Homo sapiens: one gene and its partners. The protein of the gene in region 1 purifies or fractionates together with the protein of each later gene. This does not show direct contact. Each region holds a gene or a part of one and is shown on either strand. Other genes may lie near its edges.

What was found.
Region 2: the proteins of RFT1 (region 1) and GPR107 purify together in Homo sapiens (co-immunoprecipitation; one large-scale study listed by IntAct). This does not show direct contact.
Region 3: the proteins of RFT1 (region 1) and SLC18A2 purify together in Homo sapiens (co-immunoprecipitation; one large-scale study listed by IntAct). This does not show direct contact.

Annotation. Positions count from the first base shown.
Region 1 is NC_000003.12:53,092,436-53,095,935, reverse strand, and holds part of RFT1 (man(5)GlcNAc(2)-PP-dolichol translocation protein RFT1), read left to right. Parts: intron 1-3,317; coding exon 3,318-3,500.
Region 2 is NC_000009.12:130,098,906-130,102,405, reverse strand, and holds part of GPR107 (protein GPR107 isoform 3 precursor), read right to left. Parts: intron 2,950-3,500; coding exon 2,874-2,949; intron 1,778-2,873; coding exon 1,704-1,777; intron 1,301-1,703; coding exon 1,183-1,300; intron 1-1,182. UniProt on the Homo sapiens protein: Has been proposed to act as a receptor for neuronostatin, a peptide derived from the somatostatin/SST precursor.
Region 3 is NC_000010.11:117,265,114-117,268,613, forward strand, and holds part of SLC18A2 (synaptic vesicular amine transporter), read left to right. Parts: intron 1-1,619; coding exon 1,620-1,698; intron 1,699-1,870; coding exon 1,871-1,922; intron 1,923-2,559; coding exon 2,560-2,623; intron 2,624-3,500. UniProt on the Homo sapiens protein: Electrogenic antiporter that exchanges one cationic monoamine with two intravesicular protons across the membrane of secretory and synaptic vesicles.

The sequences.
Region 1 (3,500 bases):
AGTGCCAAAGTGGACTCCATAACTGTCAAATGAAGGCTGGGTATGATCTTCTCACTTTGGCACATAAGATATCAGTGCCATCCTTTTCATGGCTGTGAAGGCTCGATTGTATGGCTGTGCCTTGATGTATTCAACCAGCACCTGCTGGGGGCTTCTTCAGGTGGTGCTACAGTTGATATCCTCGACCATCCATGCCTTTTTTTTTTTTTTAACTTTTTTTGAGACAGGGTCTCACTCTGTCGCCCAGGCTGAAGTGCAGTGGTACAATCATAGCTCACTACAGCCTGACTTCTTAGGCTCAATCGATCCTTCCACCTCAACCTCCTGAGTAGCTGAGACTATAGGTGTGTACTACCATGCCCAGCTAATTTTTGTATTTTTTGTAGAGACGGAGTCTCTGGGCACCATGTTTCCCAGGCTGGTCTCCAACTCCTGGGCTCAAGCGATCTGCCTGCCTTAGCCTCCCAAATGCTGGGATTACAGGCATGAGCCACTGTGCCCAGCCAGTCCATCTTTTAATAAGCCTGATTTTAAGTCCAGTATTTTCTTGGGACCATGGAGAAATAAGTATTCATAAATAATTTACTGTTTATGTTAACCAAACCTTACAGGATAGTCATATTGTCACCGATTAATAATTTTGCTTTGATTTTAAAAAGTGATTTTTTTTTTTTAAGACGGAGTCTTGCTCTGTCTCCAGGCTGGAGTACAGTGGCGTGATCTTGGCTCACTGCAACCCCCGCATCCCGGGTTCAAGCAATTCTGCCTCAGCCTCCTGAGTAGCTGGGACTACAGACGTGCACCACCAAGCTCAGCTAATTTTTGTATTTTTAGTAGAGACAGGGTTTCACCATGTTGGCCAGGACGGTCTCGATCTCTTGACCTCGCGATCTACCCGCCTCGGCCTCCCAAAGTGCTGGGATTACAGGCATGAGCCACCGTGCCCGGCCAAAAAAGTGATATTTTAATTGCATTTTTAAAATTCTCATTTTTTCCTGAAGTGGATTATGCCTTTAAGGCTGTAGATTTGTGAATTCTGGAAAGTTCAGCAGCTGCAGGGCCCTCTTCTAGTGGCAGACAATGGACCCCATCATCAGCTCCTCTCAGATGGCCATATCAAAGAGGCTGTGCTGTCGAATGCGTCTCTGCTTGAATTAGCATGAATTAACTATTGGCTTTATTCATTATTGTTATTTTACTCGGAGTTGGGGAATGATGGCTAAAAGTTTGTGAATCTATGACTTAAACTCCAAGGATTGGTATAGTAGACCTTTCTGAGATAGTTTCTGAAAAACAGGTTACATATCTCTGCTGCTTTGTGGAAAAGAGGTCAAAGTACTGGTCTGTGATGGGTCCCATTTGAGTGGCTTGTTCTGAAGTTGACCTTTCTGATCACTGATTAGTAGTGAAAAAACTTCCCCTGTGAGGTACAGGCTCTCGTACTTCATTAAAAGAGACTCTCTCTGGACTGAAAAGCAAATAAACTCCCTCTCTGGAACTCCGGATGAAAGCACATCTCTCCTGTTGGAGTATAGTATTGTGTGTGAGAGTGTGTGTGTGTGTGTGTGTGTGTGTGTGTGTGTGCGTGTAGTATTTTTACCACCCACTTTGATAAAGCGTATCTCCACAGCACACAGCACCTTGGCCTGAATCAGCCAAGGACCTATACCTGGGCATTTGGGGGATGCAGTGGCTTGCCTTCTTTTTTCTTTTTGGTAGAGACATGGTCTCACTATGTTGTCCAGGCTGGTCTCAAACTCTTGGCCTCAAGCAATTCTCCTGCCTCAACCTCCCAATGTGCTGGGATTACAAGCATAGTTCTAGGGTACTGGCCAAGTTCTAGGACCTCCTCCCACACCTGCAGAATCAGGAACTCTGGTGGTGAGGGCCCCATATGCATTTTTAAGTCATCATTATATTTTGAGACAGGGTGTTGCTCGGTTGCCCAGGCTGGAGTGCAGTGGCATGATCATAGCTCACCATAGCCTTGAACTCCTGGGCTCCAGCCTTCTTCCTCTCTCAGCCTCCCAAGTCGCTGGGACAACAGGTGTATATCACGGCTAATTTTTTAATTTTTTGTAGAGACACGGTCTCATGATATTGCCCAGGCTGATCTGAAACTCTTAGGCTCAAGCGATCCTCCCGCTTCAACCTCCCGAGTAGCTAGGACTGCAGGTGTGTGCCACCAACCCTGGGTAATTTTTACTGGGTTTTGTAGAGACGGGGGTCTACTAGCTCTGTTGTCCAGGCTGATCTCGAACTCCTGGCCTCAAGCAATCCTCCCACCACTTCAGCCTCTCAAAGCACTGGGATTCTGCTTTCTGACGACCCCTCATGTGCAGAATCTGGGTGGTGGCCTCTGAGGTTTTCTAACCCAGCAGACATGGCTTGAGGATGTCAAAAGTTTGGTTCCCTCAACAGCTATATACTTTGAGTGCCTGCTTGGTGCTAGGCGGAAACCAGAGGCTAGGGGATTTTGTTCTTGGCTGTACAAGCCTTTTGGAGGACTATGGCAGCTATTTCGTGTTTGCTGAGAATCTGTTTTCTTTTTGGAGGACTGAAGATAACTAAGTGATGTGCTGCTTTGAAATCAGAGAAGTGCAAGAAGCGCCAGGATCCAAAGAGCTCTAGAGATACAGAGAGTGGGAGTGAGGATATGTAAGAGTCTGGAAAATAGCAGAGGTGATCCAGGCTTTGGTTTCAGTTCCCATTTCATTTTGGAGGCCAGTCATTTGCTTTGAATGGGGTCTACTGCCCAAGGTTACTGGGTGCTGCATTTCCCAAGGGCAGTGGTGTGAGGTACTGAAGCTTAGGGGTCAGAAGTCCGGCTGAGTGTTACCTCACTCTTGAGACAAATTACTCAACTTCTCTGTGCTGCTTCCCTTGTCTGTGAAATAAATCCAAGCTCTGCAGGGCAAGGCCCATGTGTGTTCATTCTCCAGTGTGTCCCCAGCACTCCTCACAGGGCCTGTCACAGAGTTAGCATCCAATGTCTAATTACCCAGGTCACATTCTTGTATCTCACATTGAGGACTTGGGCTGAACAGGGTTTTTATGTTTTGATCACAAAGTATCGCTTAACTAACTAATTATTGTCTTCAAAAAACATACATCTCCTGAGTTGTTTCTTACCTTTCTGCTCAGGGTAAGGGGACAGGGACATTCCCATGGTCTCCAGGTAGCATTCGATGTTATGAAAACCTGGATTCCAGGAGCTCAGGTTCTTTCTGTGAGTTGATGTTCATGGCCGCTGTTTTGGGAGCAGCCTTGTCCAGGGCAAGGTCACCACTGCCCTCCTTTTCCTGTCTCCTCCCCAGGTACAATTTTGTGATGCTGGCCCTGTCCTCCTCATTCCTGGTGTTATCCTATCTCTTGACCCGTTGGTGTGGCAGCGTGGGCTTCATCTTGGCCAACTGCTTTAACATGGGCATTCGGATCACGCAGAGCCTTTGCTTCATCCACCGCTACTACCGAAGGAGCCCCCACAGGCCCCTGGCTGG
Region 2 (3,500 bases), on another chromosome or scaffold:
CAGGCTGGTGGGGGGAGACTCTAGAGGGATGAGGGACTCTACTAAAGGGAAGAGGCACACGCAGCCGGGTGACAACCCAGTCTCCGTCATTCACAACTCCGAGACCTCGGCAGGCTGTAGGACTCAGTCTGGCTGAAGAAGTGACCACGGTGGCTCGACAGCCGAAAGACCGGCACAGTCCCTCAGCATGTTTTGCTTAGCAGACAGCAGGGTCATGTGTATTTACTGCCTCTGTCACATTCCTTTCCTTCAACACCCAGGCCAGCCCTATCTCTGTCACAAAGCCCTCCTTGATCCTTCCAACTTGAGTGCTTATTCTCTCCTTGGAAACACAGAGCAACTGGCCTGTCCCATTCATTTGATGTCAACACATGTTCCTCATTATTGAACGTAAGGGTGGATGAGGTCTGTTAGAACTCCGAGAGGAGCTCTGCTGCAAACTCTGCCAGAGTTGGGACGGCTGATCTGGGTGCCTCAGGAGTTGTCCCCTTCCACCCCCAACCTTCCACATTTACTTTGTGCTCCAAAATGTGAGAAAAGTTCACAGGGACAACTCTGTCAAACAGACGCTGTCTGGTCAAGCAGAGCAGGGTAGCTGTGCATCCCTGCTAAAACCTCTCTGTTCATTGTAAGTTCTTTACATCCAAGTTCTGCTTCCAGTAAGACAAGGCTCCTCCCGCAAAAGACTCACAGCCTTGTAAGGCTGGCCTTGGCCCTCGGCCCCAAACATGGTAAGGATTTAGGAAATGTTTGCCCCTCACGTCTACTACCATATTCTACCTGTGGAAACTCACTGGTGTAGTTCACGGTTTTAAAATACTTTGTTAATAAAATCACTACATCTCTGAGCTTCCTTGCCAAGGGCACCATTTAGTTATGAAGCAAATGATGCAGAAGAGAAAACAGTACTGTGTGTTACTGTGTGTCTCCCTGTCACTGTCAGCAGCTCTCTACTCAAAATCTAGGCCCCCAAAGGCCAGTGGCTGACTGATGCCCAAGCATCTCCCAGTGCAATGACCTGAAGTCTGTTCAGAATTCAGAAAGAGAATCTCAGTCTTCAACCTCCACTAGCAGAAGCTGGGGTTTCAGGGTGAGGTGACTCCCTCTTCCCATACAGGCTTGGAGCTGAGCCCTGCTAAGCGCCAAGAAAGGAAGTGACAAATGGGATGAGGGTTCTTTTACCTGGAGTGGAATGACAATCATGAAGATCTTTTTGTCTTTATCAGAAAGGATGTGCTTAATGAAAGCCCAGCCAGTGCCAATGAGTGCAATGGTGATGAAGAGTAGCGCCCCTTTCAAACTGGAAGAGAAAACAAGGAACAGACACCAGCAGGTCTCTTTAGACTCTCACTGCCAGTTAGATTGCATAGCTCATTCTATGAGTTCACAAGCTTCTTACAAAAGACGGGCAGCCAAATTTAGGAAATCCATCATACATGAGCACCACTTCCTTCAGGGCACACAGTTAGCTCTGCACCCCACAGCCTGGACAGCCAATGGCCGCAGAGAGGCAGGAGTATGCCACTAAGCCCGACTTCCCAAGTCTGGACAGCCACCCATGAGCTACACTCCTCTGGTATGGCAGGGGCCCAGACAGGCTGCCACAGGAGGGCAGGGCTGGTTAACTTGGGGCAGGTTGTTGCCCACCCCCCTTGTCTTGTATGTCATTTCATGGTGTATTTCACATGGACCTGCATACTTACAGGTGAGTTATGTAGTACACAACAGCCCAGCCTTCGATAGGGAAGCCCTGGGAGGAGATGTAGTGGTAGTCAATCTGAAATCAAACAACTGCATTTCAGAATCACTCATTATCTACATGGCTCCACAAAGAATCTTTTAACTTGGACCCATTTGGGAAATTATCCAAATCATTGTCATTTGGTGACGCTGCCACTGGATATATTATTGCCTTTTCCAAGGAGGCCACTTTCAAGTACAGCAAAGAGTACATGTCTAGAGACTGTCATCCTTGCAAGTGTGCTCCACGGGCACTTGGAGGCCCACAGACAGGAGAAGTTGTGATCTTACCCCCTTGGGCAAGTTCATTTTAATTTGCATAAGTTCCAAATATACAAAGCTGAGGCTCAATTCTCATGCCTCCAGCTTTATAGCATCAATTTTCTCTCAGATAAATATGCTAATACTGAATTGAACTTCAAATCACAGAGGAACATGAGGGAATATCTGGAAACATAAAAAAGTCGTGGAGGCCGGGCGTGGTGGCTCATGCCTGTAATCCCAGCACTTTGGGAGGCTGAGGCGGGCGGATCACGAGGTCAGGAGATCGAGACCATCCTGGCTAACACGGTGAAACCCCGTCTCTACTAAAAATACAAAAAAATTAGCTGGGCGTGGTGGCGGGCGCCTGTAGTCCCAGCTACTCGGGAGACTCAGGCAGGAGAATGGCGTGAACCTGAGGGGAGGAGCTTGCAGTAAACAGAGATCACGCCACTGCACTCCAGCCTGGGCAACAGAGCGAGGCCCCGTCTCAAAAAAAAAAAAAAAAAAAAAAAAAAAAAAAAAAAAAAAAAAAAGTCGTGGAAACAAGTCAGCAGGTGGCACTCTCATCTCTAGAAATGGTAAAAAAACAAAACAAACCAAAAACAAAGAAATAAAAACAATAATAAGTGTTCTAGAAAAACTGTAGGTCTGTAAGCAGTATTAGAAGATGTCTGAAGTCTAATATGAGGGGAGGTGGTAATCATTTACCCGCATGGCCAGGCCCTCCCAGACAAGAGGAGGCTTTATGAGAAATGTATTCTTTGTCTTTGTTTCCCACCAATCTATCCCCTTTCTTCAAATTTCTTTTGCCTGCTCACACAGGCATTATACGTAATTTCATGAATGATCCTCAAAATGCTAATACATACTGCATGGAACACCAAGGAAAGAGACTTGGTGAAAGGAAGGGCCGCCATCAGCCAGTGGATTTTAAATACATCATTCCTATAAAAACAGAGAGAAAACAATTAAAGGAAGATTCCATTCTCCCAAAGGACAGCCAAAGCTCCAGACATTAGCTATATTTATAAGGAGACAGGAAATATAATCTGTGCAAACCACAAACATGAAACTTTTTTTTTTTTTTGAGACAGGGTCTTATTCTGTCGCCCAGGCTAGAGGACAGTGGTGTCATCACGGCTCACTGCAGCCTTGAACTCAGGCTCAAGCGATCAAGCAGCTCTCAGGAAGCTGAGGTGGGAGGATGGCTTTAGGTGTATGCCACCATGCCCAACTAATTTGTTTTGTATTTTTTATACAGAAAGGGTTTTGCTAAGTTTCCCAGGCTGGTCTTGAACCCCTGGCCAAGCAATCCACCCACTTCGGCCTCTCAAAGTGTTGATATTACAGGCATGAGCCACTGTACCCAGCTAAAACTTTTTTTTTTTGAGACAAGAGTATCGTTCTGTCACCCAGGCTGGAGTGCAGTGGCACAAACTTGGCTCCCCGCTAACTCCACCTCCCGGGATCAAGTGATGCCCCCCCACCGCCTCAAC
Region 3 (3,500 bases), on another chromosome or scaffold:
TGCTAAGCATGACAGAAATAATTCTCTGGAAAATGAAATGAGATTGCTCTTTATTAGTGTTTCCCAGAACTCCCATGTCTAGAATGATCTGGTTTTGGATTTAGCTCATGGAGCCATTTATTTGGAAGTCCCTGCTGTGTTGGAAGACTCAGCCTGTTTCTGGGTTTGATGGTAGACGTTCGTGCTTTATCCTAAAGAGACAAGATCACACTTGCCCGTGAGTGTGTGGCCAGCTGCTGGGATGAGAAGGACCTCCAGGCCCCATGCATTTTGAGTGTAGCAGGCACTCGGTCATCTGATATCTACCTGCATGTCTCACTTATGCAGTCCTCTGATTGAGAACAAAGTAACTTTTACTATGTGTGGGCAAGGCTTGGAATCAAGTCTGGTATATCTGATTTCAAGGAAAAAATACTAAAATCACTAGGAGTTTGAAAAGCAGTCACTCATAAAGAGATTGTCCTGTGGTTCTGAGGACCACACACAGCTTGGATGGATGAGGACCAGACACAGCTGATGTGGACAATTCCCCTGTAGCCAAGCTGGGTCTGATAATGGTTAGGCCTTTCTGTTCAATGCGGAGGACAGGTTCAAGGCCACTGCTGCCACCACCAGCAGGGAATCACCCTGGGCACATCAGAACCTGGGGGATGCAGGTGTCCTCTATGGGGACAGCAATAAAACTTGGATAGGAGGCCGGACGTGGTGGCTCACGCCTGTAATCCCAGCACTTTGGGAGGCTGAGGCAGGCGGATCACCTGAGGTCAGGAGTTTGAGCCCAGCCTGGCCAACATGTTGAAACTCAGTCTCTACTAAAAATACAAAAATTAACTAGGCGTGGTGGCGCATGCCTGTCGTCTCAGCTACTTGGGAGGCTGAGGCAAGAGAATCACTTGAACCTGGGAGGCAGAGGTTGCAGTGAGCCAAGATCGTGCCGCTGCACTCCAGCCTGGGTGACAGAGCGAGACTCCATCTCAAAAAAAAAAAAAAAAAAAAAATCTGACTTGACAACAAAAAATGACCAGGCAGACATTTATGTTTCTGACATAGAAAAATGTTCATAAAGCTAACTGAAACAAGCAGGATAGAGTATAATCCCTTTTTTTTGTAAATCAAAACACACATAAATATATTTATATATGTAAATAAACTTACAGGAGAAAATAACTGTGGTGATTATCTGAGTAATGGATGGGGTTTGGGGTAATTTTAACATTTTTCTTTTTGTTTATCTCACGGTTCCCTAATTCTTTCAATGACTGCGTCTTACTTCTGTCGGATGAAATCACACATAAGATTGCAGGTGCTGAGCTCCCAGGCAGGAGCTGTTTGTATTGGCCCACGTGTGAAGCCCACCACCAGCCAGAGATGGAGGCAAGATGAAGCAGTTGATAGAGAAAGGACTTTCATTTCTGGAGTGTCTCAGCAGCTTTGTGTGGAGGATAAGCCACGTGGGTCCAGACCGGATCCGGCAGGCGCCGGATATTAGCTGCTGGGGTGTGGGCCCCGGGGCTTCGTTTTATCTGCTCTCATCAACATTGTGGTGTCTACAGTTATTACTTTTTCTAACATATGACTGATATCAGCACTGATAAGGTCTCCTTTTCATAAATTTACAGGCGTTGCCTTCTTGCCAGCTAGTATCTCTTATCTCATTGGAACCAATATTTTTGGGATACTTGCACACAAAATGGGGAGGTAAGATGATATGAAAACAACACTCATTCTGTTACAATAATGTAGTTCTTTCAAAAAATTCTAAGTTGTTTCTGCCTTTGCTGTTACAAGTAATTGTTTTGATTTTCATTGAAAATTTGGACTAGAAAAAAATCAAATGATCATTTCTTGATGGTGCTTTTTCTTTTGGTAGGTGGCTTTGTGCTCTTCTGGGAATGATAATTGTTGGAGTCAGCATTTTATGTGTGAGTAAAAGATGGCATTTGACAAGTGGGAACAATCTGTGAATAAAACTTGCGCTTTGGGCAAGAATCACCAAGAAACATTTTACGTTTGAGTTTGTTGATGTTTTATTACAGCTTTCATTTTATTCTAATTTTTTATCATCTTAAAAATGTTTGGACAAGACTTTCCAAGGAGTGTATTTTCATTTTATGTCAGAAATTATTTAAAATGTTTTATTTCACAGTTTAACTTTTCCCCTGCATCATCTTAAGCTTGACAGTGTCTTAAACACTTCAGGACAACCAACCTGAAACAATAGCAAGATGTTTTTCTAGAATAAAATCTCTTCTACCAATGGCCAATATCCATCCCTCATGAGGCCTACTTGTTCTTGTCAAAACTTGAGGGTGGACTAGGCTGATCTTTCACATATGCCGGTGACAAGTTTTTCATGGTGGTCATAAAACTCGTTTCAAGCTTTGACTTTTAAAGATTTGGAGGGTCCGGTTCTTCACAAACCCCACCCTTCTTCCTCCTGTTTTCTTCAGAAGGGAACAGGCATACCACGCTCAGAGAAAACACAAGTTCAAGACTTTCCGAGATGATTTAGAGTTGGATCTCTTGTTATTTTAGCATAATGTTTATTTCCTCTTACAGATTCCATTTGCAAAAAACATTTATGGACTCATAGCTCCGAACTTTGGAGTTGGTTTTGCAATTGGTAAGTCACACGAACCTTGTGCCTACATTTAAAACCGCTTTTCCACTAGGAAGGGTTCTTCTTCCTCTGGTAGACTGTAGTTCCTCAACCTAAATTTCCAGAATCTTAGAAGGAGGCTGCAGGCAGCTTAGCTAAATTACAGCCTGTCGATTCTCCGTGTAAAGACACCTGCTTCTATGCACTAGTCATTTATTTCCTGAAAACCAGTATTTTTTAAAAGCTGATATTTACAGAAGGAAACTGATGCTCCACTGCTGGGGCTGGGCAAACAAAGGAATCCCTTGCACAGAGCTCATTTTTGTGGACTCCTCCCTATGAGCAGGTCTTCTCATGAGGCTGGGGGCAAAGGCTTCACATATGTATTTTGAAGAGGTTTTAGTACAGACAAAGCAGACTAATGTGTTGATGACCGCCTGTGCTGCAGGAATTCCCATGGGCAAGGAGATGGGCTTTTGTAATGTTAAGAATGATAATATGTTAGGAAAAATCTGTCACTATTTTGAGTGAATGGTATACTTTTGTCTCTTATTTATAATATACCAATTGATCATGATAAAAATAAGTGCTCAGTCCACCCCTGTAGAAGCAGGAACGCAACCTTTGAGTGGTACAGTGGCACAGCATGGCTTTCACTGAGGACAGATGGTAGAAGGCTGCTGAGGCTGGGGTAGAACTCAGTATGGTACTCTAGGTCCTTCTCAGGTGACCGTTTGCCTGTCCTCTGCCTTGCCTCCCCTTGTCCTCCACTGTCTGGTTGGCCCATCTTTTTAGGGAGGGTGCTAGTCCTCTGGCGGCTCCCCTTGCCATTCTGCAGGTCTGGCAGAGTTGCAGGTTGCTAACTGTACGGCCCCTGGCCTGCATCCTTTTGGTGCTTCCC